Homo sapiens: one gene and its partners. The protein of the gene in region 1 purifies or fractionates together with the protein of each later gene. This does not show direct contact. Each region holds a gene or a part of one and is shown on either strand. Other genes may lie near its edges. The genes, in order: DEFA6, POTEE, MIPEP and VWA1.

What was found.
Region 2: the proteins of DEFA6 (region 1) and POTEE purify together in Homo sapiens (affinity purification with mass spectrometry; 2 studies listed by BioGRID and IntAct, with this or other methods). This does not show direct contact.
Region 3: the proteins of DEFA6 (region 1) and MIPEP purify together in Homo sapiens (affinity purification with mass spectrometry; 2 studies listed by BioGRID and IntAct, with this or other methods). This does not show direct contact.
Region 4: the proteins of DEFA6 (region 1) and VWA1 purify together in Homo sapiens (affinity purification with mass spectrometry; 2 studies listed by BioGRID and IntAct, with this or other methods). This does not show direct contact.

The regions. Positions count from the first base shown.
Region 1 is NC_000008.11:6,923,810-6,930,928, reverse strand, and holds DEFA6 (defensin-6 preproprotein), read left to right. Parts: upstream 1-4,852; 5' UTR 4,853-4,893; coding exon 4,894-5,086; intron 5,087-6,001; coding exon 6,002-6,111; 3' UTR 6,112-6,232; downstream 6,233-7,119. UniProt on the Homo sapiens protein: Host-defense peptide that contributes to intestinal innate immunity and mediates homeostasis at mucosal surfaces by forming higher-order oligomers that capture bacteria and prevent microbial invasion of the epithelium.
Region 2 is NC_000002.12:131,226,348-131,234,182, forward strand, and holds part of POTEE (POTE ankyrin domain family member E), read left to right. Parts: intron 1-475; coding exon 476-582; intron 583-1,896; coding exon 1,897-2,034; intron 2,035-4,488; coding exon 4,489-4,559; intron 4,560-7,835.
Region 3 is NC_000013.11:23,885,926-23,894,391, reverse strand, and holds the start of MIPEP (mitochondrial intermediate peptidase), read left to right. Parts: upstream 1-4,991; 5' UTR 4,992-5,071; coding exon 5,072-5,260; exon of another isoform or gene 5,261-5,711; coding exon of another isoform or gene 5,712-5,714; intron 5,715-7,885; coding exon 7,886-8,059; intron 8,060-8,466. Other genes in the region: C1QTNF9B (complement C1q and tumor necrosis factor-related protein 9B precursor), read left to right, coding at 191-253, 2,331-3,103. UniProt on the Homo sapiens protein: Cleaves proteins, imported into the mitochondrion, to their mature size.
Region 4 is NC_000001.11:1,430,912-1,439,127, forward strand, and holds the start of VWA1 (von Willebrand factor A domain-containing protein 1 isoform 1 precursor), read left to right. Parts: upstream 1-4,778; 5' UTR 4,779-4,837; coding exon 4,838-4,910; intron 4,911-6,015; coding exon 6,016-6,573; intron 6,574-8,169; coding exon 8,170-8,216. Other genes in the region: uncharacterized protein LOC107985729, read left to right, coding at 2,322-2,377, 3,052-3,160, 3,285-3,491, 3,625-4,239. UniProt on the Homo sapiens protein: Promotes matrix assembly. Involved in the organization of skeletal muscles and in the formation of neuromuscular junctions.

The DNA of each region.
Region 1 (7,119 bases):
ATCAGGTCTTCACTCATACCTTGGCAATTTGGGCCTGGCTCAGAGGAGAGGTTCTGCTGGGATCTGAGGAGCTCAGGGCTGAGACACTCGCGCACAGGTGGCAGGCAGTGCTGGCTCAGCTGGGAGCTCTCACAGGGCTGAGGGATGGGACCTTGTGATGCGCTGGGGCCAGATCATGCCGGCTCATGAGAAAGGTGGTTTGTGTGACATTTTTTAAACGGTCCAGAGCTGGGAGGATTCTAACCACAGAAATTTACAAACACTGTAAATCAGAGTTTTGGTTTTTCCCAGAAAGCTGGCTGTTCTGTGTTCTCTAGCTCACCCTCGCAGGTGCCCTCAGTTCATCTTCCTGTGCGAGGCTGAGGCTTCCTCAAAACACGGTGTCTGGGCCCCCAAGTGACCAGCCCTCTTAGTCCGTTTGAGCCACTATTTAAAAAAAAATACCATAAACTGAGTTGCTTATGAACAACAGATATATTTTTCAGTGTTCTAGAGGTTGAGAAGTCCAAATCAAGGTGGCAGCAGATTTGGTGTCTGCTGAGAACCAGCTTTTTCGTTCATAGATGGCACCTCCTCACTGTGTCCTCACCTGATGGAAGGAATGAAGGAGCTCCTTGGGATCTCTTCTATAAGGACACTAATCCTATTCATGAGGTGCCCTCCGGACCTACTCACCTCCCCAGAGGCACCACCTGTTAATGCTATCACCTGGTGGTTTAATATTTCAATATATGAATTTCAGAGGGACAAAAATATTCCAACTGCAGCGCCATCCAAGACGGTGAAAGTGAAAAATACCAGTGTCTTAGCACCTGGGCCCAGCAAACGGCATGGTACTAAGTCAGGTGCATTCTATTGGTGAAGATGTCACCCGACCTAGATCCAACAGGAAAGAAGTAAACCTCCCTTTCTGTGGGAGAAGAGTCCAAGAATTGGGACCACATTTTAAAACAGCCCAAGAGAGTTATTCTTTCATAGTCATTTGTAAAAATTGCTGCAGGCAACAACACCAGACACATAGACAGCATGTGAGAGGCGGCTGGGAAAGGCAGACAAAGGGCAGGGGACTTGGAGCTCCTGCCTGTCCCAGCTGGATCTGCAGGCCCGGGAGTTGCTGTGTGGCACAGGCAGCACCAGGACCCTCCCTGCAGGGAGGTGGACAAAAGGCTGAGGGGAGGGACAGGGCGGTGCACTCTCAGGGGCTGGGAGATGGACAGTTCTCAGAGCTCACCCCCACGCAGCCCCCGCTCTACCCCACGCTAACACACACACTCTGTTCCAAAACTGCCCTTCCACACTGGGTCAAAACCATGTCCCAGGGCCCTGCCCAAGGTCCACACTCACTGTGTCTGCTGGGGTCACCAGACAGCCTCAGAGAGTGTGGGAATATCCTTGCTGCTGCTGAAGGCCTTTCTCCTCTCACACCCACACCTGCACCCCCACCTGTAGCTTCCCCAGGATATTTACCCCAGCTTGAGGGTGTCAAGGCTCTTGTTGAGTGTCTGAAAGCTGAACTGCATGTGTATGAAGGAACAGTTTCAGTTGTGTCTACACTCAGAGTTGACACTGGTGGCAAGTCCAGGACACTGTGCTGGGGGCAGGGTGGGTGGGGGTGGAAGTGAAAGTGTTGCAAAGACTTTTACATGTAGCACCATTTTTTGCTTAAACCACTGATTTCTGCCAAGGTTCTGGTGCAGCCCAGAAAGAAAGGTGAAAGGGACCACGAGATACAGACTCACTCTGTTCTAATTGGGGTTTGGGAGCCACCTGGGGGAGACAGAGGCAAGGCCCAGGTGAGACCTCAGCACAGACTGAGAACCTGACCTGCCCTGGCTGTCGAGTCCCCACCACAGACTGGGAAGGAGGCAGGGACAGGAGCATTGCCACCCAGGAGAAAGAGCAGAGGCCCCCAGACTCAGGTCCTCAGCCCCGCAGCCAGCACAAGGGGGAACGACATCATGACACTAGGTTAGAGACGGGGCAGGCCAGCCTTCCAGGGCCAGCAGCTACCGCTGACACGGAACCAGCAGCAGTGTATTCTGTGCCCCCTGAACTAATGTTGTAATATGTACACTTTGGGGTGCAGAAGAAAGCAATGTGTTTGCTGAACAGCACTTTACAGCGCTCCCATTTGAAGTCCCTCTTGGGTCAACTCCTGTTTAAGGGCAGGAGGGCCACCTGCTGTCCTTAAGGTGCTACTGCAGTGCTGCGCGCCCAGTTCTCTGTAAGGGCAGGTTCTTCTTTACTGGAAGATAGTGTGGGCTCTGCTAGGTCAGCGTCTGATGTGTGAGGACATCTCAGGGTGGAGGTATGCTGGAGCCACTGAGGACAACAGAGACAGCCCTTGGCCTAAGTCAACTTCATCTCGGTGGCATCTCCAAGATGCTCGGTTCTTATTAGGGCTTCCATGTGGGAGTGGGGTGGGGTTAACTCAAGAAAGGCAGTTAACAGAGATGAGGTCCTCGTGACTGCGGGTCACGGTAGGGAGGTTACTTCTCTTGCAGGAGCCTGATGGCTAAACAAGGGGGAGATATACCTGCCTCGATTTTGTGCATGATCATTGAAAGCTGGATCCTAGAGTAAATGGGCTCTTCAAAATAGAGCTTGTGCTTCAGTATTTGCATGTATGTGACTCTAGGGGCAGGAAGGTAAGTAGAGAGAGGGAAAGGAACTACGTGAAGTTCCCTTGTCCCTGACACCCTTTGATGTTCTACTGTTCTAGAAGTTCTGTTTACTTCCAGGCGTTCCGTCTGTTGGCGTGGTGATTGTGGTGACTTTACAAGCTGCGATATGGATCCTGATAAGCCTTCCTGCACCCCATCTGTCTAAACATTTACCAATGCCCATGGGGATTGGTCTGCATTATCTTCTATTTCAATTAAAATAGGCTGGGAACACTTCTTAGTTTCCAAAGATAGAGCATACAATTCCAAAATGCTCCTTTAAGTCAAGACAAATTAGATCACTTATTTACAGAAGTATCTTGTCCTGTTAGCTAGATCAGGGTATCTGAGTAACAGCTCCAGGGTAGGATTTCCAGGTGATAGAGTAATTATTGCCTGTCCCATGAACTACTGGGGAAAGAGGCATAGACAGCTATAAGTCACAATGGACAATTACAGTTTGGGTTGGAGAGGGAAAGTTTAATTCGAAATTTAGATGTTAGTTAAATGGTCATCTCCTGCTGGGTAAATGAAGGCAAAATTCAAATAAATACAGAACAAATGCATTTTTAAATGCCCATAGATTCCCTAACAAAACTGAAACAAAAATCAAGAAAACAATTCCATGTACAATAGCATCAAAAAATAAAACACCTAGGAAGAAACAAGGAGGTGAAGGATCTACACACTGAAAATGAAAAAAAAAAAAATAGTGAAAGAAATTAAAGAATGTAAAAATAAATGGAAAGATATCCTGGGCTGAAAATTGGAAGAATTAAGATTGTTAAAATGTCTATCCCAAACAAAACAATATACCGATTCAGCACAATTCCTATCAAAATCCCCATGGCATTCTTTACAGAAATAAAAAAAAAAATCCTAAAATTTGTATGAAATGGTGAAAGAACCCAAATAGACAAAACAATTCTGAGAAAAAAAAACAAAGTTGAAGACATCACAATTCCTGGTTTTAAATTATATTACAAAGCTACGGTAATCAAAACAATATGGTATTGGCATAAAACCAGACACATACCAGTGAAATAAAATTGAGAGTCCAGAAACACATCGAAACACATATGGTCAAGTAACTTTTGACAATGGCATGAAGAAGACACAATAGGGACAGGAGAGTCTCTTCAATAAATGGTGGTGGGAATACTATTTCCATATGCAAAACAATAAAACTGGACCCTTCTCTTTTGGCATATACAAAACTTAACTCAAAATGGATAAAATACCTGAATAGAAGACCAGAAACAAGAGACTATGAAAATAATGGTAGAGTTCTATATGTTTTGAGCTACAAAGTATTCAAATTACAGCATTAGGGAGAAAAAACAAAGCACAAACCAATGTTTAATTTTTAAGTGGAGATTTCCTGGAGCAGAGCTGCAGGGCTGGGGCAAGGATGGAGGCTCATTACTCCTTTTACCCTTTGAATGGTCCTTGTGGGCAATTCAACATTTTCTAAAATTAAAAATAAAATAAAATTTCAGAGGGGGATTGTGGGCATGTCAATTGTTTCGATGTTTCTCAAAGTGGAGAGAAATACCTAGTACATATTTTAGTTGATACATTCAGATCACATGGGTTTCTTGAAATAAATCTTTTGGCTTTAGTTTTACTAACTCTTTACCTAGTATCCCACTGAGTTCTTTTCCCTTATAGGCTGATAAGGTCATTATCTTCTCCACACTGTGCCCCACAAGAGCCTATTCACCCCATAATCTCAAAGCCTCCTTCATGAGGGCAGAAATGCCCCCTGAATCCTGCAATGAATTAACTCTCTACTCTAGCGGGATCCAGCTCTGGCCTCAAGGTCTAGACCTCCAGAGAGTGGCCAGCCCCACCTTCAGAAAATAAGAGGCATTTGATTCCTGAAATTATTCATTGAAAGCACTGTTCTTTTCTTTTTTGAATATTAACAAGTAAATATTCCAGCAGATGGAAAACAGGACAATGTAACACTGTTCTTATCATCACTATCAGCTGGGACCAGAACAGACACTCAATAAACAGCCTCACACTACAATGAAGCTTGGAGAACAAAGGAGCATCAAAGGGACATGGAGGGCAAGGGTAGCTCTTCTGCTCCCCAATCACATGCACTCCCCGTCTCACCGCAACATCTGTCCCTGAGCCTTCTCCCAGCAGACCTATAAATCCAGGCTGGCTCCTCACTCCCCACACATCTGCTCCTGCTCTCTCTCCTCCAGCGACCCTAGCCATGAGAACCCTCACCATCCTCACTGCTGTTCTCCTCGTGGCCCTCCAGGCCAAGGCTGAGCCACTCCAAGCTGAGGATGATCCACTGCAGGCAAAAGCTTATGAGGCTGATGCCCAGGAGCAGCGTGGGGCAAATGACCAGGACTTTGCCGTCTCCTTTGCAGAGGATGCAAGCTCAAGTCTTAGAGCTTTGGGTAAGAGACACCAGCATTGCAGAGCTAGGAGTGTAGAGAGGAAAACCAAGCACTTCTAGAATTAGATCCAACAGCTGGCTCTTTCTCTTAGGTGATCACCTCCCCAGGCCTCAATTACTTTATGTTTGTACTGAAAAGGAAGAATCAGTGATATTCAAGGCATGACTTTTCTCTAAAGATTTTTTAATTCTATGATAAGTCTATGAAATTTTCTAATTTTTTGCCATGTAGAAATGTATTGAGGAGTCTCTACTTCAAGGAAGAGAGCCTAATTTTAAAGGAATGTTTTGTTTTGCTTTGTTTTGTTTTGTTTTGTTTGATGGAGTCTCGCTCTGTCACCCAGGCTGGAGTGCAGTGGCACTATCTCAGATCACTGCAACCTCTGCCTCCTGGGTTCACGCAATTCTCTCCCTCAGCCTCCCAAGTCACTAGGATTACAGGCACCAGACACCAAGCCTGGCTAAATTTTGTATTTTTTTTTTTTTCAGTAGAGACGGGGTTTCACCATCTTGGCCAGGCTAGTCTTGAACTCCTGACCTTGTGATAAACCCACCTTGGCCTCCCAAAGTGCTGGGATTACAGGCGTAAGCCACCACATCCAGCTGCTAAAGGAATGTTTTTTAATCTGACTTTTATAGGAACCGTTGCAAACTGGAGACAGTCATATGGGTGCATTCAGATGTGTGTGTGACAGGGAAGGAGCAGATAAGTACAGCATATCAGAATGGCTCTCTAATCCTGTGTGTGACCAACACTGCTCTGCGTATTTATTCCTATTGATGGTGTGATCATGCTATTGGCTGTAATGCAGCCAGCATTACATGTCAGCAAGCATGCAACTTCCTGAAGATTCTCTTTACTGCCCGCTGCTGACCCTGGTGCTCAATTTCTGATGCTCTCTCTCTCTGTCCCCAGGCTCAACAAGGGCTTTCACTTGCCATTGCAGAAGGTCCTGTTATTCAACAGAATATTCCTATGGGACCTGCACTGTCATGGGTATTAACCACAGATTCTGCTGCCTCTGAGGGATGAGAACAGAGAGAAATATATTCATAATTTACTTTATGACCTAGAAGGAAACTGTCGTGTGTCCTATACATTGCCATCAACTTTGTTTCCTCATCTCAAATAAAGTCCTTTCAGCAAGTTCTTTTGTGTTTGTGCTTTTCTGGTGTTTGATAATTCAGGATTCTTCAGATGCAAAAACAAAAACCCAAGTCGTATCTCAGAACACTAGCTCTTCGAAAGAGTTTTCTATGTAGACCAGAGAAGTGGTAGAGAGGATGTTGAGAGAAGAGAGGATTTGGGTTTTTTGTTTTTTTGTTTTTTGCTTTCTGAGATGGAGTCTCGCTCTGTTGCCCAGGCTGCAGTGCAGTGGCACAATCTTGGCTCACTGAAACCTCTACCTCCTGGGTTCAAGTGATTCTCCTGCCTCAGCCTCCCAAGTAGCTGGGATTACAGGTATCCACCACCACGCCAAGTAATTTTTGTATTTTTAGTAGAGACAGGGTTTCACTATGTTGACCAGGCTGGTCTCGAACTCCTGACCTCAAGTGATCCGCCCACCTCGGCCTCCCAAAGTGCTGGGATTACAGGCATGAGCCACCGCACGTGGCCTTAGGCACTCTGTTTTAATGTTAATGCTGGCCAGCTGTGCCTGAATTCCAATGGGAGGAGGATATCATGAGGTATTCCTGATCCCCACGTCCCATCATGGCCTGAACCAGTGTTTGAGGTTAACACTAGAATGCCTTGGGCTGAGAGGAGGCGTCCATTCAGTTGGCTGGAGGGCTTAGAATTTTAATCTTGGTTTGAATGGGATACAAACATAGGAGGAAGGAACGTGGGGTCCTGGCCCTTCCGACTCTGGCCAGAACCTTGCCAACCACATGTCCACAAGAACACAGGCCCTCTCTCTTTGCCTTGTCCCTTGTCACTATGTCCAGAGACAAGAGGGTGACAACAGTCCTGGGTATAACAACAACCCTGACATTCATCCAGAGGTCTGGCCAGACTCCCAGTTCTTCTGCCCT
Region 2 (7,835 bases), on another chromosome or scaffold:
TTTTAATAGCAATTTTTGTTGCATGTTGGAGGTTGAACTTTTGGTAAAACATGAAACTAAAGAAATATTTTACATGCAGATTCTTGCTTTATACACAATTTGTCTTAGGGTTGAGGATATAGAGACAAAAGATACAGCCCCTGCCCTCAAGAAGCTTTTTGTTTAGATGGGAAAAATATTATCATCCAATAACACCATGCCAAATGCTGGTTTAGAAGCAAAGAGCCTTGGAAGCAGTAAATGTTTAAAGTGAGTTTTTGAGATGATTAGAGTTACTGTGGTGAGGCAGAGAAGGGGTGTTTCCAAGGGAAGGAGCAGCGTGTGGGAAAGCACAGAAGAGTGAGAAGGAAGCGAGTACATTTTATTTACTTTCTATGCGTGTAAGTCCATAAGATCTTACATAAAGTTTCCACTTTGGTTGAGGAATATGTACTTTTTTGAATTACATAGGTTTTTGCTTTATATTGTTTTACAGCATGGCCTCACACCACTGTTACTTGGTGTACATGAGCAAAAACAGCAAGTCGTGAAATTTTTAATCAAGAAAAAAGCGAATTTAAATGCACTGGATAGATATGGAAGGTATAGTTCTTTCTTTTAATCTGTGTGTTCTAGATGGACAGCAGTCACTCAAGTCATAAATATTAAATTAATAAGATTAATGTATACTTACTGGGATGTAGTGATCAGTATCAACACAAATCAGTTAGGTAGAAAAACAATTACTTGGGCTGGGCAACATAAAGAACAGTTTTAGTAGGATTCATCTTCTCTTATTATATTGACTGATGTTATTTGTTATGTGACATTTTTGGTTACATGATCTTATGTTAGCTTAAAGGATTTCATATTAATTTTATGAAGTTTGAACTTTAACTTTTAGTTTACTTTATGACTCAGTATTGAACTTCTTAACCCTTTCTAATAGTTTTTAACCTGTGTCTTACATGCTTTTCCATTAAATCTGCTGTATTAAACATAAATAGGGGTTGAAAATCCTTTTGTCTTTTTAATGACTTTGCTTTAAGTTGCTTTCTTTGAAGAATATTAGTGTTAGCTTATCCCTACATGACAATTAATTGCTGTTCCCACATACTGTGGGTTCAACAGCTTTTTTCCTTTTGTTTTTCCAGTGTGTTTTGATGTTTTTATTTTTAATTGGTATGGAGAGAGGGAGTGAAGATAGTTTTAAGTGGATACACTTTTCCTTTAATGAAGACAAGCCGTACGTGGGTGATAAAGAGAAAAGAGCTAGGCTTTGGATTCACACAAGACTGGGTTTAATTAGTAACTTTCTTACTTGCTAGGTGTGTGACCTTGGGGACGTTATTTACCACCAAATATGTTGTCATATATGAAAAGTAGGAGAATATATCCTTCAAAGTTGGCTGTGCATAAGTAAGAAAGATACATGTGGCATTTAATTCAGTGCCTAGCACATGGTTATTGGCACCATTAACTGAAACTCCTATGACTACTATTCTTACCATTATTATTACTGCTTTGAGCATGCAGAGAGCTCTTATTTCTCTTACCCCCTAGCTGATTTTCTATTACAGCATGTCAGTCTAGGGAAGCTGTGACAAAATCTTCACTTAAATCTTTGTCCACCTCAGATAAGTGGCCCTAACATTGTTTCTTGCCCATCAAAGGACTTTAAATTAGTAGCTTCTGCTATGCAATACCCCACTGAGATAAGAGGGTTTTTTTTGGTCCCTTCCTTTTAACCTTGGTGGCATTTTACAAAGATGAACACTTGAGCACTCAAGATGCTTATGTCTTTTAGTGCATGTAAATGTTTGATTCTGCACAGACAGGCAAGATGTTACATTGGTAAAGTATATCAAATTAGCTTTAAAAATAACTTTATTACAGTTCCTATCTCTGTCATTTTAGGACTGCTCTCATACTTGCTGTATGTTGTGGATCAGCAAGTATAGTCAGCCTTCTACTTGAGCAAAATATTGATGTATCTTCTCAAGATCTATCTGGACAGACGGCCAGAGAGTATGCTGTTTCTAGTCATCATCATGTGTAAGTGTTTACATTAAAAGGCTAGTTAATGCTGAATTGAGGTTTAAAATAATTATAACAGTTGCATCTCACATATCAGGTGAGATGTCATAGTTTGGTTCAGGTAGTTTTCGCGTGGCAGTGAGTTAGTCCCCTGCATCAGCCAGAAATCAGACAAAAAGCAAGACAAGTTAGAAGTACCAATGGGTGCGGGATTCTTTATCTCAGGACTTTTAAGATCTTTATCCTTAGAGATCCCAGCATTGTTCATTTGATCCAAGTGTAACACCTATGCAGGGATAAAAAATAGTGTCACATCTTTAATTTTTCTGATTAGTTATTTGGGTCTTGAAATGTCTAGTTTAGCGGAAAGTCTTGTACTGTCTTCTGGGGACTATGTCCTACATACTCCTTGAATTTTTCAAGAACCGAAGGAGTTCACTAAATCCAAGGAAGACAGTCCCTTTTATCAAGTCAGAAGGAGGAGGAAAAAAGACATTGCAATCATTCTGTTGTTTCCGTTGATTTTGTTGCTGCTTTGTGGCCACTCAAACTGGTCCTGCTGCCTTAAGATGAATCAGTAGATTCAGATCCCTCAAGTCTTCATGGCGATTCATACAGTGACTTTGATGTTTTTTAATTCCCATACCTATGCTTATATGCTCAGCCATTGTTCCCAGAGCACCAGCCCCCTGCTCTGGCCGCTGGGCATCTTGACTTTATCCGCACACAAAGTGACCAAATTGACCCTTCCCCACATATTCAGAACCTAATGTGGAACCCACATCTTAGCCAGGAATTAGCTGAGACCTTCATGGTAAGAGATCCTTTGAGGCTGTTGTTGGTCTTTTCTCTGGCAGATGTTAGGTGGGCTTGTTCTAAAGGGTGAGAGGGGTTCAAATAATGTGGCAGAAAGAGGTCAGTGTTTGTTTCCTCTTTGCTACCAGATCTGTACTGTGAGGCACCTTTATATCCTGTATAGAACCCAGTAGAAAGTCCCATATGAACCTTGCCCTGAGCAGTGGCTCCCAGCTGTGGTTGGCCCCTTGAGTGATCTGATTTACATGATAATGAAAATTGTCGGAGCTACTTCCATCTCTAGCTCAAGATTTTAAGATATTTTCAAACTCTAGCTCACAGGAAGCCATTGAAGAGAATTCTCAGAATCTCAAGTAGGTTAGTTGGACTTCACAGAGCCAAGCCTTGTCCATGACGCATCACTAATCATGTGTAAAAGTAGGGCTTTGTGCTTGCTTCGGCGGCACATATCCTAAAATTGGAACAATACGGGGAAAGTTAGCATGGCTTCTGCATAAGGAGGCAGCACAGATCTTTGAAGCATTCCATATTTTGTGCAGTCACTGGAAGGTCATTTGACTATTTGCTGACTAGCTCTGAGGAAATAGTGTGAATCAAAGCAAAATGGGTGCCACCCAAATATTGAAATTGTGATTTGTGCTGCAAAAATAGTCATGTAAGATGGTCTATGAGATGACTTAGACCTGAATAACATGTTCGGTGCAAAATATATTGTTAGTATGTATGTCGAAAATTACAGAATGTCAGCTTGCTACTTCTCTGTGGAAACTAAAAAAAAATAAAAGTAGACTTTTGGTCTCCCATGTCAGCTGGAATTGAACATCAATATAAAGCATTATCCTAACAGACATCTACTGGCTGAGAGTTTGAGTCTGTAGAGAAGGATCGTTGGTCCAAGTCAGGTCTTAACATCCATTGGTTTTTCTGCCCTTGGTGTGATTGATCAACTCCGTAATAGTGGACAATCACATTATCTACTTTAATGAGATATTTATGAATAAATTTAGTTACAAACTATGACATAGTTGAGATGCCCTGAATTATAAGCCATAAAGAGTAGGACAACTAAGAAGCAAAATTAGGACTTAATAACATTTTCTGAAAACTACAACATTTGTATATTAGAACCTATGAACAAAATATGCATTGGGTTTTATTTGGGATTCCAAGATAATTTTAGTCATAAAGTTTAGGAACAGATTATTCCATTGCTTTACTATTTCTCTGAGCATTTAAAAAATGTTATCTCGTTAAACCTTTATAACAACCTAGTGAAATAAGGCAGCAAAGTCCTCACTTTGTTGAAGAAGACATTGAGCCTAAGAGAAGCAAGTTGTCCAAGAACAAATAGCTGTTCATTATGGAGCTAGGACTTATTTAGAGTTGGGACACTTTCTATTATGTCATGCTAATGCTAGCTAATTTACTGGGTCACAGTGCCCTCGATTTATGACTATTTCACCTTACATTTTTTTCTTCTTTAATTAGAAGCTTAAAGAGAAGTTTGTAGAATGTATTCATAAGTGGATGGGATAATACTATTAAGTTCTGTTATTCTGATATTGTTTGAAATACTCTTAATAATTCTACATTTGGTAAGTTTTTTTTATATCAGTATTAAAATAGTAATTTGGTTTATTACATTTTTATACATAGAATTTGCCAGTTACTTTCTGACTACAAAGAAAAACAGATGCTAAAAATCTCTTCTGAAAACAGCAATCCAGGTAAGACTTGTGATAGTGAATTACTTTAGTCAGTTGTCCCCAACCTTTTTGACACCAGGGACCGGTTTTGTGGAAGACAATTTTTCCATGGGCTGGGGGAGGGTGGGGATGGTTTCAGGATTATTCAATCATGTTACATTTATTGTGCTACTTTATATTATTATCACATTGTAATATATAATGAAATAATTATACAACTTACCATAATGTAGAATCCGTGGAAGCTCTGAACTTATTTTTCTGCAACTGGATGGTCTCATCTGGGGGCAAAGTGAGACAGTGACAGATCATCAGGCATTAGATTCTCATACGAAGCACACAACCTAGATCCCTCAGATGGGCAGTTCACAACAGGGTTCATGCTCCAATGAGTATCTAGTGCTATCACTGATCTGACTGGAGGCAGAGTACAGGCGGTAATATGAGCCATAAGGAGTGGCTGTAAATACAGATGAAGCTTCCCTGGCTTGCCTGCTGCTCACCTCCTCCTGTGTGGTGTGGTTCATAATAGTCCATGGACTGGTATGAGTCTGTGGCCTGGGAGTTGAGGACCCCTGCTTTGCGTGGTCCTACCATAGATAAAAAAGTAAAAGTAAGGAATTTTTGATCACAAAAGAACACTGAAGCACAAGTCATGTTACATATGCTTGTCCCAATAAGGTCTCACTATTACTGACTTCATTCCTCCTCATTTGAAGTTGGAAAGAGATATATTTACTTTGTTGGAACAAGATGTGTTCTTCTACCTGCTGGTTAATTGTCATCATAACAGTAATTTTGTTAGAACAAGATGCTCTGCTACCATTTGCCAAAAGATTGTCATAATAAATATACAAATTGCCCAACTCTAGGCTCAGCAGATTATAATAAAAGCAGAAAAACGTTTCACACTAACAAAAACGCTAGTATGCTACCTGGTTGTGGACACCTAATACATTTATAGTCCAAACTGTATGAGGACACCTTTAATTTAGCCATCTATTTATCAAAGAGCTTTTGTAAGTTAGGTTTTATAAGTTGCAGGAGACAAAGATGGAATAGATGTAGTTTTGATCTTTAAGGTGCTCATAATAGAGCTGTCTCCATTTCATTTCTGTGGTTTTTCAACAGAATTTACAAAGAAAACATTTCTATTTATGTTTTCACTTGTCCACTTAACATATAACTATCAAATGTCTTTTAGATAGTAACCATTTTTCTAATGCTATAGACCACAAACAATTAAAAATACAGACAGGAGCTTTTTGTTATCATTGTCATTTTCATTATTTTACTACTTTATTCAGTGCTTACTGTGTGCTAGATGCCCACTGGAAGCTTATAATTATGATTTATTATATATTGATTATGTGCCAGACATATGTGATGAGGAATGAAAGTTTTGGGAAAAAGTAGGTATGATTTAAGGTAAGCATGCAGAGAGAGAAGAATTTTTCTAGGTAAAGAAGCAGAAGAAGAATGTTTGGCAGAAGGAACATGCAGCGAGGTCGTGTGTTTGCCAGAAGGAACATCTAATGAGATTGCCTGTTTGGGAGGAAGAGCAGCAAGTGCAAAAGACAAGATGCTTGAGTGAACATGGCAGGGTTTCTGAGCAGTTCACTTTTGCTAGTACCAAAAGTGTGTGATACGAGAGGTTGGGAATGAGGTGAATACTTAGCTAAGGCAAGTTTATGATAGACTTTTTAATACTATAGAAATGAGTAGGTCTTATCCTGTGTGCCATGGGAAATTTACCGGGTAGAATGCTTTGGACTGCAAATACTAGATGAACAGTGGCTAAAACAGTAGGAACCAGAGTTGTTTTGGTTGTTCATTGATATCCTAGGATCCCACTTTTCCCTCTTTCAGCTGTGCTGTTGACAGTGTTTTATTCACGTCTCCCTTCATGGTTGGCTAATCCGCAGCAGCTCCAAACATCTTGTTCTCACAACACAACATCGCAAGGGCTGCTTTTCTTCACATGTGTCTTTTAAACAGGGAGAAAACTTAGAAGCATGCAAAGGGCTTCCTGTAACATTTCACTGGCTGGGTCACACCACATGCTCATTCCCAAACCAGGCACTGGGAAGGTAAATACCTGATTAGCTTAGAATAATCATTTCTGTTTCTGAGGCTGAGGAGGGGGATTGGGATAATAAATATCCCAATAGACTTGGATTTCTTCTTCAAGAAAGAATAAGGAATGGCTATTGATAGGGAGCCAACAATGTGTGCTGCAGGGGCTCATTGGAGAAATTTGAGCAGGGGAGTCATAAGATTAAATCTGAGTATTAAGGCATTCTGGTTATGGTGTAAAACGGGTTAGCAAGCTTTTTCTGTAAATGGCCAGTTGGGCAATATTTTAGACTATGTGGTCTCTGTCATATCTACTTAACCCTGCTGTTGTCTGCTGTTGTAGTGTGAAAGCCACCATGATTATATGTAAGCAAACAGGCATGACTGAGCTCCTATAAAACTTTATTTACAAAACCATAATGCAGATTGGATTTGGCCTGTGGCCTATAGTTTGCTGGGATTGATGGAAGGTTCTTTACCCTGTAAAGAAACCAGGAGACAAAGGAAGTTTTCGCAGTAGTCAGTTATAGTTTCCTTGTCATACATCCTTGGAGTAGCATCAATGTATTACAAGGTTTTCACCCGTCCTTAGTGAAATACATAAAGTTAGGAATCTCAACTACTTGTTTTAATATGTTGGCCTTTTTTTTTTGGTGTTATGCTTTTTTCATTTGTTTTGCTTAATTTTTTTCATGTAAGAAATAACATTAATAGTTGGCAGGCTTTTTTTTAAATAAAAGCCATTTTGTAAATGTTTGTGTTCCCAGTGGCAGTGGGAATATAAAGCAGAGGCAGAAGAGCGGTATCGTCAATATGATTTAGTGATAATTGAATGAGAAAGGCTTGGGGGACAGAGAGAAATGTCAGATAATTTCCAGGTTTCCAGGTTGTACAGTAGTATTTAACCTGGATGTGAGGACGAAGGAGGAAATTTTCTGGTGAATACAGAAGAGCAAAGAGCAGCAGGTCAGCAGGAATGACTAATGTTTTTCTATGCACGTTTAATGGAAAATTCATGTAGGATATTTTGAGTAGGTAATTGGATAACCAGCATTTATAACTCGCATCCTACTAGTTTGACTCTCACTAATAAGACTTGTCAAAGATCCAAGAATCTGAAAGTTGATGATAAATGTCCATGTGTATCACCATCAATGATCAAAAGTTAGCATCCACAACATAGAATGGGACAGATGAACTTAATGGATAAAGATGAATATC
Region 3 (8,466 bases), on another chromosome or scaffold:
CCACGCAGCTCAGCACCCCAGATGCCCGCTCATGCCTGCCTCTCTCCACCTGCGCTCGTGTGGAGGACAGAGTGCCCGTCAGGGCGGGGGTCACCCCCAGACTCTCCAACACATGGCTGATGGAGACCAATGGCCAGAAAAATCAGAAATGGAATTTCAACTCATGCCTGTTTTCTGCTTTTCCACCTAGGAGAACCAGGATGTCCTGGCAGCCCGGGGAAGGATGGGACGAGTGGAGAGAAGGGAGAACGAGGTTAGTAGTTCCTATTTATGGTGCTCTAATTCTGAGCTGTCGACTATTTAACAATATTACCATGGACAAGTCCTCCATGCTGATTATAATCTTATAATAAAGGCAACACAGTTCTTACTCTCCAGATGGGGGGATTCTGCAGGGATTGGCAGGCTTTGCAGAGGGCTGGGTAGTAAATATTCTCAACTCCACACAGATCTGTCACCACTACTCAACTTCCCCTTGTAGTGAAAAGAAGCTGTAGATGCTCCATAAATAAGCATGGCTCTGTTCCAGTGACACCATATGTGTGAAGACTGAAATGGGAATTTCCCATGGTTTCCATGTATTGTGGAATATTATTTGTGACCATTTAAACATGCAAACCATGGCCGAGCACCATGCCTCACACCTGTAATCCCAACACTTTGGGAGGCCCAGGTAAGAGAATCGCTTGAACCTAGGAGTTCCAGACCACCCTGGGCAACATAGTAAGACTTTGTCTATACAAATAAAAAAACTAGCCAGGCATGGTGGCACATGCCTGTAGTCCCAGCTACTCAGGAGGCTGAGATGGGAGGATCACTTGAGCCTGGGAGTTTGAGGCTGCCATGAGCCATGATCTCATCACTGCACTCCAGCCTGGGTAACAGAGTGAGTGACCCTGTCACAAACAAAAACCAGAAAAACAAAAAAAATGTCAACCATGTTTGTTTTGCTTGCGGGAGGGAGGCTGAATTTGGCCTGTGGCTGTAGTTTGCTGAACTTTGAACCTTGCAGTGGATGAGCACTGAGGAGTGAGACTGAGTTTTTGACTTGGTGCATCTGGCAGCACTGCATGGAGGAGGTGGCACTAGAACTGGTCCCTGATGGGTTGGGATGTAGTCGTAGTGGCAAACTTGTGTAATCTTCACTTTGTGCTTTTCATGTACTGACTCACCAAATGCAACATCCCCAGACACTAGGTAGTTTTATCACCCCAGTTCCGTAGGTGAGGGAACAGAGGCACGAGGCTCACTAGCTCGTCTGACGTCCTGTGTGCATATGGGGACAGAATGGAAACCTGGCACTTAGCCTCAGAGTCCACACTTGCAACGACGGCTCTTTGGTATGGGTGGGGGTGCAAGGAAGCAGCAAGGTTTCTGTAGATGATGAATTGCCGGTGGGATAGGTGGGTTGGGGCTGGGGTTGGGCAGGAGAGGGCAATGCCTCGATGCAGGCTTTATTTTATGTTCACTCCAGGGAGGAGGTTTTTAGAGGATGTCACGACTAGGGTTGAGTGTCAGTTAATCTGTCTGTCTCTGCTCTGCAGAGTGCTTTTTGTCATGGATTGACATTATTTAATAGCCAGCATGGTAGACTTAGATGGTAGGGTTGTAATTTCTAATGTGAGCCCTGACACTAATTTAGTAGACAGTAGTCAAAAGGTGTGTTGGGATGTGTGTGTGTGTGTCCATGTGCACACACGTGTGTAATTGGAGTAATTGACTTTTATTTATTTTTTTGAGACAGGGTCTCACTCTGTTGCCCAGGCTGGAGTGCAGTGGTTTGATCACGGATCACTGCAGCCTCAGCCTCCTGGGCTCAAGCCATCCTCCCACCTCAGCCTCCTGAATATCTGGGACTACAATTGTGTGCCACCGCACCTGGTTAATTTTTGTACTTTTTGCAGAGATGAGGTTTTGCCATGTTGCCTAGCCTGATCTTGAATTCCTGGACTCAAGTAGTCTGCCTCTCTTGGCCTCCCAAAGTGCTAGGATTACAGGCATAAGCCACTGAGCTGGGCTGGAGTAATTGAATTTTATTTTCTTATTTTTTTATTATTTTTATTTTTTTAGAGTCAGGGAATTGCTATGTTGGCCGGGATGGTCTTGAACTCTTGGCCTCAGGCAGTCCTCCTGCCGCGGTCTCCCAAGGTGCTAGGATTACAGGTGTGAGCCACCGCACCCAGATGGAGTAATTGAATTTTAAACTCTGGGCATATACTGAACCTGTGTACTACTTTGTTTCATTTGTGAGCTCAATTATAGAAAAACCAAAGTTGTTCACAAGGGAATCTTTCACAAACTATCTCTTTATTTGCTCTTTCTCTATTTAGGAGCAGATGGAAAAGTTGAAGCAAAAGGCATCAAAGGTGATCAAGGCTCAAGAGGATCCCCAGGAAAACATGGCCCCAAGGGGCTTGCAGGGCCCATGGGAGAGAAAGGCCTCCGAGGAGAGACTGGGCCTCAGGGGCAGAAGGGGAATAAGGGTGACGTGGGTCCCACTGGTCCTGAGGGGCCAAGGGGCAACATTGGGCCTTTGGGCCCAACTGGTTTACCGGGCCCCATGGGCCCTATTGGAAAGCCTGGTCCCAAGGGAGAAGCTGGACCCACGGGGCCCCAGGGTGAGCCAGGAGTCCGGGGAATAAGAGGCTGGAAAGGAGATCGAGGAGAGAAAGGGAAAATCGGTGAGACTCTAGTCTTGCCAAAAAGTGCTTTCACTGTGGGGCTCACGGTGCTGAGCAAGTTTCCTTCTTCAGATGTGCCCATTAAATTTGATAAGATCCTGTATAATGAATTCAACCATTATGATACAGCAGTGGGGAAATTCACGTGCCACATTGCTGGGGTCTATTACTTCACCTACCACATCACTGTTTTCTCCAGGAATGTTCAGGTGTCTTTGGTCAAAAACGGAGTAAAAATACTGCACACCAGAGATGCTTACGTGAGCTCTGAGGACCAGGCCTCTGGCAGCATTGTCCTGCAGCTGAAGCTCGGGGATGAGATGTGGCTGCAGGTGACAGGAGGAGAGAGGTTCAATGGCTTGTTTGCTGATGAGGACGATGACACAACTTTCACAGGGTTCCTTCTGTTCAGCAGCCAGTGACAGAGGAGAGTTTATAAATCTGCCAGACCATCCATCAGAATCAGCTTGGGATGAACTTATTCAGATGGTTTTACTTTATTAATTCCTCCAATTATTACAATAATCATAAAAAGGTGAAAACGGAAAAGTTATTCCCAAAACTGATTCTATGTAACTTACTATTTTTCCAGGAGTAAATATTTAAAATAGCTGCATGGTTTATTCTAATTTATTTCACATTTCTTATTCCTATTATCTGAAGAATCCTTTGTCTGTGCATTTCTTGTGGGAAGAGTGTTTTGATATCATTTTAGTGCTCTGAGGAGTCATATGAAGATGTATCCCTCATCTGTGTTTCTGAGGACATTAAGGGGAAATTAGAGGGAAATGTTTATTCCATTTAGTACTAGTAACAGCTTTAAGCTGGTGATGCTGTCACACTCCAGAAAGCTGTAGACACTGCTCATTTTGTCTTTTTTTAAAAAATGTATTTTTAAGTTCTGGAATACATATGCAGAACGTGCAGGTTTGTTACATAAAAATGTGCTGTGGTGGTTTGCTGCATCTGTCAACCCATCACCTATGCAGGTATTAAGCCCTGCATGCATTAGCTATTTGTCCTGGTGCTTTCCCTCCCATTTTGCTCATTTTCTAACCTAGGTTTTAATCACCATTCTATCCAACAAATCATTGTTTGATCATTATTTGCCAGACATGAATCTCTACTTGTTTTCTAGGATCGCCCTAATAAAGTACACAAACTGGGAGTCTTTAAACAACAGAAACGGACTTTCTCACAGTTCTGTAGGCTGGAAGTTTGAGATCACCGTAGCAGCAGGGCCATCCTCCCTCCAAAGGGGATACAGGAGGATGCAGCCTTGCTGCTTCCAGCTTCTGGCAGCTGGTGGCAGCATCACTCCAGTCCCCGCCTCCATCTTCAGGTGGCTGTCCTCCTCCTGTATCAGCCAAATTTTCCTCTTCTTACAAGAACAGCTTCCCTAATCTAGTATGACCCATCTTAATCATAATTGCAAACTCCATATTTTCAAATAAGGTCACATGTACAGGCACCGAGGGTTAGGACTTCAGCATCTATTTTGGGAGACACAGTTCAACCCAATCTGCCCTCTGGTTCCCAAAATTGATTTCCTTCTCATGTGCAAAATACATTTTCGCACCATGTCAACATTACCAAAAGTCTTAACACTTTCCGCATCAACTCCTCTCACCATCTACATCATTTAAATAAGCTACAGAGGAGACTTACTGTGTGATTCATCGTGTGGCAAAATGTCTCTCCATCTGTGATCCTGTGAAGCGAGACGAGTTAATCCACTTCTAAAAGACCGGGGGTTGGAGGGGGAGACAGGCATAGGGTAGACAATCCATTCCAAAAGAGAGAAAGGGGAAGGAAAAAAGGGTTCACGGGTCCCAGGCAATTCTGAAACCCTGGAGGGAAAATCCCATTAGACTTCTTTCACTATTTCCCATCTAAAATTTTTAACTGAGCTATGCAAGAGTAAAAAGTTACCGGACAGAGACACCAAACAGAGAAGTGCAGGATAAATTTACCAAGAGAGTAGGTTAAAAGGGAAACTTCTCCTTCAGGCCTATGGTGGGCATTTCTTGTTTACTCAAGTACCTGCCGTCTCTCAAAGAATATCTAATGTCCACTGGAATTCGAATATGTCATGATTTTACTCGCGCCCACCCCTAGTCAACTTGGGAGGGAAGCGCAACCCTAGCCTTTTCTTACTCTGGACACAGGGGGCGGTAAACCGGGAGGGCGGCCGAGAAGGCGAGGGGGAGCGACGCTCTTGCTCTCTGGACGACAACGTGCCCACGTCCTGAGGCCGCGCCCAGACCCGGAAGCGGGGCCGTCACGTGGGGCGGCGTGGGCTGCTGCCTTGGAAACGCGGAGCGCGCGCTCCCAGCGAAAGCAGCAGGGCAGGGATCTGCGTTGGAGGAAGGGACTGCTCTGGTGCTAGAATGCTGTGCGTCGGAAGGCTGGGCGGCTTGGGAGCCAGAGCAGCAGCTCTGCCGCCCCGCCGGGCGGGCCGGGGAAGCCTCGAAGCCGGGATCCGGGCCCGAAGGGTCAGCACCAGCTGGTCTCCCGTGGGCGCCGCCTTCAATGTCAAGCCCCAGGGCAGCCGCTTGGACCTGTTCGGCGAGCGCCGGGTGAGCGGCGCAGGAGGAGCTCCCCTCAGTCCCCGAGCTAAGCCGACCCCTGCTCCGCGCGGCCAGCAACAATCAGGGCGAGATTGTTTGGGCCTGGGAGGAGGCGAGCAGCGAACCCACCTTTTACAGTGGCGTCTTGTGTGCGCTCTCGATGAGGGCAAGGTCACCTCTGCTTTGAGGGGCCGGGTTTAGTGGTCTCCTACCCAGAGTGTCGGGTCCGGGAACTGCTTCTGCATGAGCCCCTTGCTCCACGTGAATCTGAATAGTTCGTTCTGGCAGTGGCGGTGAATTCGTCCTGCCAGGACCCGCCCTCTGCATACACTCAGGCGCACCCCTGCTAAAGCCCTTTAGCTCCAGCGCTACAGTCCTGCCTTAAGAGGCCTATCCCTGTGCGTTCACAGGCGGCATCACATGGTCTTTTTGCAAGGACACGGCTGCCTGCAGTCGAGTAATGGTAATTTCATTAATACCTGAAATTCCATCATCTATTAATTAATTTATTTCAAAGCTTTGGGCTTTCTTGTTTTAAAACACAAAACTCTGTTGAGACGAGTCTCACTTCCCATAGTGCCATGGAATTGGTCACTTTGATTTCTTACCCCAGGAAGTCACTAGCCTGCGTTGTCTAGTGAAAGGTGAGAGGAAGGCAAGGTTGGAAAGGACTTACCTGATGCCTGTTCTACTTGGAGTTTGTACATTTTGTCCGTTTTAGGTTAAGGATTACTTTTATTTTTGCCTTTTAAAATTTCGTTATACTGTATTGCCTTATAAAGACAAGTCTAGGGTATTGTTGCACTGAGCTAAAGTGTGTGATTCTTGTTTTATCTCCATTATCAGTTTTGTCTATTTAAAAATTATTTTGTGTGAAATTTGCTACACCACCTTCCTTAAGGGTATGTAGTGTTGGTATTAACATAGTTGGTGTGAAGAGACCTACTTGTAGGCGCTGAGCAGAAAGACGTGAGGGGAAGCCTGATTTTGGGTGGATGAGATATAACTAATTTTAGCTTTTATTTTTCCCTTTTTGTATCATGATATTCGGCACTGATAGCAGATTTTCAAATTTTAGAATTGATTTTTGCCTTGAAAAAAAAAAAGCCTTATTCAGTTTTTTAGCATTATGGTCACTGGTAATCCGATAGTTAGAATTCCCGAGAGCAATATGGGCAGGTTGTACTGGGAAGTGGAAGTAGTCTGTGCTTGAATCAAATTAAATCAGTATAAAGATGACATTTGTTTTTGGTCCTGATTTTCCTTTGTCTCCCACTGACTTTCTTTTATTTTATTTTTTATCTTGTAATATATTTTGAAGAGAGATTACTAGCTTAACTTCATCCATCCCTTCTTGTAGAAACAGTAGGGCTTGTCAGGCCTGAAGGTTTACCTGTTCGTATTTCTGAAAATCTATGCGTTAAGCACCTACAAAGTGAATTAACAAAGCCTAGCATCTGCTCCGGTCACTTGTTTCTTTCATTGAGTTCCCCCATGTGTTAGACATTCTATTGGATAGCTGGTTAAAGAAATGAAGGGCAGGGCTCTTGGGTCTGGAAGCTCACCTTTTCAGGAGAGAAGACTTTCAAACAGATAAATTGTAATAGAGAAGTATGGAAAAGTGTGGGCTTTACAGATGTACAGAGCGGGTTCGAGTTCTGTCTTTCCCAATATTAATTTGTGACCTCAAACAAGTTTTTTCTAACGTCTTAAAGCATGTGGCCTGATCTGTAAAAGAATGATACTCTGTTCTGTAGGATTGTGTGATTTAAATGAGAACCTATGTAAAGTAGCAGGCACACTTCATGGTATGCAGTAGGTGCATATTAAATGCTTTTTCCCCCTGCCTTCCTGAGTGTGCTAACAAGTGTGATTGAATAGGTAACAAGAGAATGGTCATTACCATTAGATCAGTGATTTTTGTTTTTATCAAGATATTGAAATGTCTTTGTAACGTATAAAATTTGCTCCCAGTTTCAGCCTATGATTTTAATATGTTCATTACATTTTTCTAAAATATCTATTGCTTCATAGTCAACTCATCCTCCCTATTTGATAGTTATAGAATAATTGGTACTATGTACTGAGATCTCACCTTGTCAGCTGCTGCTGTTAGTACTTTACATATACTTATTACCTGTATCCATGCTGTAAGGTATGTATCGTCATTCCCATTGTACATGATGAAAAAAATATTTCTCCTAGGAGGAGAAATAACATGACCAGGGTTATAAGCTAATAATAATTATGGCTAACATCTATAAATGCTCTGTGCCAAACACTGCTTTATGTATATATATATATATATTTACATATATGATCTCATTTAATCTTTGCGGCCACTCTTAGGTTCTGTAGAAGTGACAGCTGGATTTTGAACCCATACCATTGTTGTTGTTGTTTTTTCCGGAAAATAATTAAAAATTGAAGAAAAATTATGTTCTGAAAACATTTTTAGTGTAATTTATGTGGAGTGATATGGGGAGTATGATAGTGGTATCTGTGATCACAGGTATAACATGATACACCAATGAAAGTCAAGATCTCCTTTGTGATAAAAGTAATTTTAGTAAATATAAAAAAAGCACAATTTTGAATTTTGGTTATAAATCAGACGTATTCTTTGGTTCTAAGGGTCTTTTTGGAGTTCCTGAGCTGAGTGCCCCAGAAGGATTTCATATTGCACAAGAAAAAGCCTTGAGAAAGACAGAATTGCTTGTGGACCGTGCATGTTCCACCCCACCTGGGCCCCAGACCGTGCTGATCTTCGATGAGCTCTCGGATTCCTTATGCAGAGTGGCCGACTTGGTAAGGTGCTTTACCTCAGACTTGAAGCTACCTCTCTTTCAACTTGTTAAAATTTAAGTGAAATTTATCCTTTGTTGTTTACTATTAATATTAGATTATAAAGTTAAAAATGTCTGAAACTGAGATCCATTGGGTATAATTTTTTATGATGAAATATGTCATTAGGAATGGGAAAATATTATAGGAAAAGGTGATATTTAGAACTTGTACTTTAATACGTATGTTTAATAAAATATACATGTAATATATAATGAATGAATACTAATATAGCAAATATTTGCTATATTTGGGTAATATATATTTACATATATATTCATTTGACAGAGATTCTTCATTTATGAAAGTGTCTCCCAAAATTCTAAGAACACTTTATGTGTACATTTACAACAAAATTCCCCTTTTTCTTT
Region 4 (8,216 bases), on another chromosome or scaffold:
AGGAACGTGCCTGTGGGAGGCCGTAGCCCCGGAGAGCAGAGGCCTGGCCGGCGGAAGAGAAGCAAGGAAGGGGCGATTCAGGAAGGCCAGAGCCCGAGTGCCGGGGCAGGGGCCCCACCCCCTCACCCCCTCACCCCCTCACCCCCTAGGACAGAAGAGGCCCTCCGTTGGAAGGCAGGGGCCCCACCCCCAGGACAGAAGAGGCCCCACGTTGGAAGGCAGGGGCCCCACCCCCTAGGACAGAACGGGCCCTGCGTTGAGGCCCCTGGGTTCTTCCCCCGGGTTCTTGCCTGGCCCCTTCCATGGATCCTAAGCAGCTCCCTTATCGGCCACCATCTGGGAAGCCAGGAGGGGGGCATGAAATGAGGGGGAGGTGGGGCCCCCAGCCAGGGTTCCCCTCCTCAAGGCCCCAGGTATACAGTTGGCCTTTGCCCAGCCCTTCTAGCCCCTGCAGGGGCAGGACCCCACCTGGACCCCATGAATCTCTCCCAACTTTTGCCCAGCATGGTGTCCCTGACCGAAACCCCTCCACTTCAGGACCCTGGGTCCCCAGGCCCGCCCCCACCCTGAGGGTGCCTCTACACCCCTTCCCCCAGAGCCCCTTCCCCCAGCCTGAGGGCCAGGAGCAGCCTCCCTCTTCCTGCAGTCTCTACCACAGCTCTCCACTGGCCCAGGGGCCTGAACTCCTTGGGTGCAGCCGAGCTGCAGGGTGGCTGTGGGGACCTCTGCTTGGCGTTCTTTCCCGGTGGCTGAGGCCCCTGCCCTGCCCAAATGGGAGCCCGGAGTGTGTGTGTGTGGCTGTGTGTGTCCCATCTGCGTCCCTGTCACACGTCATGCCGGAGCAGGGGAGGCAGTAAGGGGCCCCACCCCACTGGATGCAGTGGGCTTCCCACCTTGCCCGGTGTCATTTCCTGATTTGCAAAATATTTCCTGGGAGCAGAGTTGTTGGCAAGCACAGCCTCAGACGGTGTGAGCAGCTGGGGGACCCCTCAGATGTGGCTCCCTCTGTCCCTCCGGCCTGTGCTGGCCTGCCCCTGCCCCCAGGCCTGTAAGCTGGGCAGGCTGTGGGGCAGGAACTCCCCAGGGTGAGTGGGCTGGTCTGAGGGCTAAGGCCCCTGCTCCCAGCTCCGCCCCACCCGCCTCTGGGAGTCCCTTGTGGTGTGTGGACATAGGTCAGTCCCTCCCTGCTGCCTCCTCCCTATCCCAGTCCAGGCCCCTGGGAGTTTTGCGTCTGCCCAGGGCTGTGGCCTGGGCCTGTCTGGACTGTGTCTGGGGAAGGGGCAGCATGTGGTCCTCCTCTCCCTTTCAGGGAAGGATGTCCCAGCAGAGAGGCAAAGTGAGGGGACCCACACAAGGAAGGGGCCCTGCTATTAGGAAACCCTGGGTCATTCAGGCCTGCTGCTCTCCGGCTCCCACCGGGCCGGGCTCTGTCCTCGCTGTGACGAACCTCCTGCCCCTGTCGAGGCCGGCAACACCCTCCACCCGGCCACCCCTCCCGAAGGCCCCCAGCCTGCTCTGCCCCTGCAGTCCTGGCGCAGGCCCCTCCTGCCCACCCCACCCTGCTCTCAGCACTCGCGGTTCCTTCTCTCTGCCTGGAAGGCTCTTCCTCGGGTACCCCTTGCGTGCGAGTCCCCAGTGACCCCCTGTTCTCACAGGGAAAACAAGTAGACCGTATCTTTCCTAGCTGTTCACCGCCCACCCTCCTAGCCTGGCAGTGCTGGCCCGGCGCCTGTGTGTCCCCAGCACTGAGGCTGGGGCGCGGCTGTGCCCAGCACACAGACGAGGGATGGATGGACAGACGCAGATGGTGCAGCTCCCACCCCTACCCAGGCTGCTACCCGCCAGGTGTCTACCCGCCACCCCAGCTGCTGCTGGCACGGGGGACTGAGGGGGGTCAGCTCTGGGGCCAGAGGGGCAGGCCTGGGCTCCTGGGAAGTGAAAAGTGACCCCCGAGGCCCCCAAGACCTGTCCTTGACCCCAGTGAGCAGGTTGAGTCTAGGAGCTGCGTGGGCCCTGCTCTCTTGGTGACCCCTGCTCTGCCCCACTTACTGTTGTGGGGTGGGCTCAGGCACACCCCAGAGCAGTGCCTCAGGCCCGCACCGCTGCCCCTCACCGCCGCTGCCCCTCACCGCCGCTGCCCCTCACCACTGCTGCCCCTCACCGCCCCGTCCATCTGCTCCTGTGTGTGCTTGAGTACGTTTGTGAGATACGTGAAAACAGCAACAAAAGGCGCCGGGTGCGGGCCTGGGCGTCCTGCCCTCAGCTCGGGTCAGGGGTGGGGTCAGAGGCCTCAGGAGTTGCCCTTTTACCCAGGGTCAAACATGACCACAGCCAGCTGGGGACAAAAGGCCCTTCATCTTCTGCAGAAGCCTGGATTGTGCGGAGGAGGGAGCATTCCCAAAGGCGGGTGGGGGCAGGGGCGGTGCCCGGGTGACAGCAGCCTCCCCAGCTTCCTGGAACTCTCTCCACCTGCCTGCAGACAGACCGGCAGGGCAGGCTGGCTCCGGGAAGTGAGGCACAGGGACTCCCACAGCCCAGGCCCAGACCGTGGGGGCGGGGTGGCCGCAGCCAAACCAGGCTGCTCCCCACCCCATGGGGCCCCAGGCCACCAGGATCAGACAGGGGCTGTGCCTGCAGGAGGCAGAGGGCTCGGGGCCAGCACCCACTGTGATCTGGCCTGACCCGTCCTTGCCTCTGCCTCTTACCCCGGGCCCTTCTCCCTGGAGAGTGGAGGGTTCCGGCTGTTATATTTGTGCTTCCTCCGGTGTCTGCCTCAAGTCCGGCCCGGGCCCTGACACTGCACCTCTGGCTGACCCCATGCTCTCTGGGACCCTCTGTCCACGTCCCTCCTCCGGGGTGGAGACAGCGGGGGGAGGGCAGGACACAAGAATGAGTCCTGAAGACTGAGGGGCACGGGGAGAGCTGATGGGGAGGGTCTCCTAGCTGGAGGGACTCCAGGCAGAGCCGGGAGCAAGGCAGGTGGCTGAGCTCGGCCCAGGCTGGGTGGAGGCCAGGCCTCCTGTGCCTTCTCCCGCTGATGGCGAGCTGAAGGGAGGAGGGCGGCCGCTTCCTTGAGGGCCTGAGTCACAGCCAAGAAGACCCGCTCACTTTTTCCAGAAGTGAGGGAAACTTCCCCGTCAGCCCTGCAAGGCTGGCTGAGGTGTGACTGTGGCCCGCCTGCTGGGCGAGGGTGGGGGACAAGCGGGCCACTGGCTGTGAGCCTCCCCAGGGTGGGGGACCCTCGGCCCAGCTCCCTGCCTGACTACCTGGACGTGCCTCCGCAGGGTCTGCAGCCAGCTTCCGGTCAGACCCCAGGTCCTCCAGCGGCTGCGGCCTTCAGCGTCATCTCCACGGCAGCCCCTGTGTACTGGGGGCTGGGGGGCCTGGCGAGGCCCCTCGAAGTGGTACAGCTTGCACTCTGGGGACCCAAAGTCCCCCCACCGGGCCCAGGCGGAAGCACCAGGCATTTCTGGTCCCAGCCGAGGTCTGAGGTCTGTGGAGCGCAGCCAGCACCTCCACTGCCAAGATCCCCGGCAGGGGGGGTGGGGGGCGCCGGCGGGGACACAGCTCTCCCTTGTTCCTGCCGCCAGCTCCTCAGCCTCAGCCTGCTGCTTCCTTTTTTAGGCAAAGTCGAGTGCTGGCCGTCCGCACGGCCCCGCGGTGTCTCACCTGCCTGAAAGGGAGGAAGGAAGCCTGTGGAGCCCCATCCGTTCTCCCGCGGCGCATCCTCCAGGAGAGGGTGGGGAAGGAGGAGACATCCTGGCAGACACCCCCCCACGTCCCCCACCTCCCAGCTCTGAGCTGAGGAGGCCCTGGAAGAGGGCCATGGCTACTCCGAGGGAGGGCCGGGGTAGGGTTCTCCTGTCCAGGGGACACTGCTGGCCCAGCCCCACCCAAGCAGGGGAAATCTGCCCTGGGAGCCACTGTCCCTCAGGACGCCCCCTGCAACCAGCCACCTCTCGTCTGGGCCTCACCAAGACCCCAAGACTCAAGAGCTCCTGTCTCACCAGTGGGACCCTCCAGTCCTGCTGGGGGTGTGTCCTGGGTCCTGGAGTCTGGGCCCCTCACTGGGTAGGGTATATGGGTAACAGGCCCAGTGTGGTCCCACTGGACAGGGCCTCAACCAACCATCTCCCACTCCCATGCCTCTTCCTCCAAGAAGCCCAGGTGGCGTGGGTGCTTCGAGTCTCTCTCGAATTCCTGTCTTCTGTCCCCTTTCAAGCCACTGTGTCCTTGTAAGTTCCACCCCATGGTCCTTCCCATCCCTGCTGGTCAGTCCCTGGGATACATGTCCTGTTACTCCAGACACCTATCCGCCTCCAGCGCGGAGGCCAAGGCGAAACCACGGTCTGGACGTGTTTTTTTGGTGCCACCGCCAGCCCCTGGGGTTCTCTTGGGCCTGGCTGCTGGGACCCCAGCACCCAGAGTCACGGCAGTGGTGGGCATGGGGAGGGCCTAGCCTGGTACCTCCCTGCTCGGCTCCCGCGGCTGGGGGTCGGAGAGGGGTGGAGAGCGTGGGCCGCACAGCCTCGGCCGGGAGAGGGAGACTGGAGTGTGTGTGTGTGCGTGCCTGCGCGTGCGTGCCTCGGTCGTATCTCGGCTGGTGCTGCGTGTCCCTGCGTGTCGGGGTCCGCTCGTGCGCGCCTCTCCGGGGTCTGTGCGCGTGGCCCTCCGCTCGCGCCGGAGGGCGTGGGCGTGGCCTCGGCGTGGGTGTGGCCGCTCGGGGAGGGGCCTCCCGGGGGCGGGGCCGGCCTGGTCCGCGCGGTGACGCGCCCTGCAGCCCCGAGCGAGCGAGCGAGCGAGCGAGTTGCCGAGCGCGCCCCGTCCCTCGCGCGCGATGCTCCCCTGGACGGCGCTCGGCCTGGCCCTGAGCTTGCGGCTGGCGCTGGCGCGGAGCGGCGCGGAGCGCGGTGAGTGCGGCGGGCGGCCGGGCCGGGGCTGGGGCTTCTGGTGACCGCTCTGCGCCGCTGCCCGCGCAAGGCCGTCGCTGTCCCCTGCTCCGGACGGGCGGGCGGGCTGGGAGGCTGCGGGAGCCGGGCGGGGGCGCGGGCGGAGCGTCCTGCTCACCTGAGGCTGGCGGCCCAGGTGCTCCAGGCGACACCGTCCGTGAGCGCCGGGGCATAGGGGCCGTCCCGGCCCGCATCTCTGCGGGATCGCGGGCCTGGACAGGAAGAGGGAGATGTCTGTCAAGGGGGCACCCCTGCCTCAGTTTCCCTACCCTTGCGAGGGCCCTTAGTGGAGGGATGGTAGGGAAGTTGGAGTCGCCCCACCGCACTGGGGAAAACCGCAAGGCCGGGACTAGAATTGAGGCACGCTGGTGCCCTGGCTTGGTGGGGAGGGGCGGTGTAGGGGGCATCAGCCTCCACCCCGGAGGTGCCCGGAGGAAGGGGGAAGCCTGCGAGGGGCTGTTCCGGCTTTCAGGCTGCTGGGGGTTATATCTTGTTGTGTGAGTCCAGGTGGGCTGGAGGATGGAGGCCAGGGGAGGGGCCACCATCTAGTAAGCGGGGTCTGGGCTCCAGCCAGGCCATCCGGCGTGGTCATTGCTGTGCCTCCGACACCTTCCCCTGCTGCTGTGTGCATGCCCAGGGTGCCTCACCTGCAGGCTGAGCTGCGTGGCTGAACTCCAGCCTCAGGCTGCTCCTCTGAAAGCCATGCCTGGAGGGAACAGCCCCACGGCTCAGGCCTGTCCTGGGGGCCTAGGCCAGGACTCTTGGCTCCACCTGCTTGCAGGGTCTGTGAGGAATGGGAAGGTGTGGGGGCTTGGAGCGGAGAGTCGCCCTCTCACAGATGGGATAACACAAGCCCAGAGAGAGCCCTAGATCCCATGGCCAGTGTGCAGTGAAACCCCCAAAAGTACAGGCCTCTTGCTTAGAGTTCCTCTTTCCCCCAACCTAGGACCTTTGGGAGAAGGCAAGCATCCACTTAAGGAAAGCTGGGGCCCTGGGGGACCCTGCCTTGCTGTGGGGCTGTCTGGGGGGCCCACACCTGAGGCTGAGCATTCCTCCTTTCCCCCAGGTCCACCAGCATCAGCCCCCCGAGGGGACCTGATGTTCCTGCTGGACAGCTCAGCCAGCGTCTCTCACTACGAGTTCTCCCGGGTTCGGGAGTTTGTGGGGCAGCTGGTGGCTCCACTGCCCCTGGGCACCGGGGCCCTGCGTGCCAGTCTGGTGCACGTGGGCAGTCGGCCATACACCGAGTTCCCCTTCGGCCAGCACAGCTCGGGTGAGGCTGCCCAGGATGCGGTGCGTGCTTCTGCCCAGCGCATGGGTGACACCCACACTGGCCTGGCGCTGGTCTATGCCAAGGAACAGCTGTTTGCTGAAGCATCAGGTGCCCGGCCAGGGGTGCCCAAAGTGCTGGTGTGGGTGACAGATGGCGGCTCCAGCGACCCTGTGGGCCCCCCCATGCAGGAGCTCAAGGACCTGGGCGTCACCGTGTTCATTGTCAGCACCGGCCGAGGCAACTTCCTGGAGCTGTCAGCCGCTGCCTCAGCCCCTGCCGAGAAGCACCTGCACTTTGTGGACGTGGATGACCTGCACATCATTGTCCAAGAGCTGAGGGGCTCCATTCTCGGTATGCGGGAGGAGGCAGGGCCCAGGGAGCCCTAGCTGGGAGCCGCAGAAGGAGAGGCTGGGTTGAGACTTTGGGAAGATCTCATGTCCCCAGAGCAGCGGCCAGGGCCTCCGGGGCTGTGGTACCCCTAGGGTGCAGGGCTGAGTGATGCAGCTTGTCTATGCACACTCTTCACTGGGCGACCCGTGTACCCTGCTGAGACGGGGGCAGGCTTGAGTAGCCACCTCCAGGTGTAGCTCCCTGCTGATGTGTCCAGCCCAGACCTCGAGGCCCCAGGGAGTGCAGAGCCCGGGTGTAGGCCCAGGAAGAAGCTTCCAAGTCTGGGGACTCTGCAGATGGGCAGCATGTGCTCCTGAGCATGCCCACCATACCTGGAGAGGGGTGAGCCAGAAAGGTCAGGGACTGCCCCCCCAGAGAGCACAGGGCACCTCTCCTGGGTGGGGACAGCCGCCGAGGGCTTTGAACTAGTTCGGACTGCAGGCCCACTGTGAGGGTTTCCTGAGAGGCCGGACCAGGGAAGGCCTGAGGCAGGAGCTGAGCAGCTCCCATTGGCTTTTTTTCTGGACCTCCCTGCCCCAGCCAAGCCCTGAAGGAGCTGGGGCTGGAGATGAGGAACCGGCCACTGGCTCAGCCTGCTGCAGCCACTGAAAAATGCCAACCCTGGGGATCTCACCAAGTCTCCGTCTGTGGGTTAATCATCCACCCAGAGCCGGAAGGGGTTGGACTGTGGGTTGGAGAGGGGTGGACGGCCCTCCCCAAGGTTTCCCCAGGGACGTCTGGCCCCTAGTGGCCCCAGGTCACCCAGTGCAGCTGCGCCTGGAGGGGACCAGGAGGAAAGGCTGCCTTAAGCAGCCAAAGGAAAAGCCTGAGGCTGCAGTGCCGAGGGGCCAGGCAGCAGGGTGGGGGCTCCTGGGAAAGAGGCCGGGTCTGAGGGTGGGGGATGGGAAGAAAGTGGCCCAGGCACCCAGCACTGCAGGAGGAAGATCCTGATAGCTTTAACCCAGCGCAGACATTTATGAGCCTCGCCACAGCAGGGTCACTCAGAGGGCTATGTGGGGCTTGGTGTCACAGGTCCAGGAGTCCCCCTCTGGAGAACCCCACCCCACACTCTCCTGGGGACCCAGGGCAGGCAGCGCCTCCAGAACCCCAGGGCCTGCCCCTGTGGTCTCCCATCTCCTAGCTGCAGCTCAGAGAGCCGGGCTGACCTCAGACCCCGGCCTGGCCACTCAGGCTGGGGCTGGTCCTCTGCTCTCAGGCACCACCGTGGACTCTGCCGTCTTTGAGGACCTTTGTCCTGGTCACTGATCTGGCCACTGCACCTCTCCACAAAGGACTGGGTTTGGGGCTAAGGGAGGCAGGGGCGCTTCTGACAGGGCCTGAGGGGGCTGCACCCTTTCCTCCGTCCTCCCCCAGCCAAGGCACGTTCTGAGAATCCCCAGCATCTGCGGGGCATGGCTCCAGCAGCTCCTTGGCCGCGGGGCCCCGTCTTTCCTAGTGGGGCCTCCAATCTCCAGATCTTCCCCATCAGCCAGGGCCGCCCTCCAGCAGCGGAGGAGGAACTGACCGCTGTTCCCTGACCCCCTGCACCACCCACAGACGCGATGCGGCCGCAGCAGCTCCATGCCACGGAGATCACGTCCAGC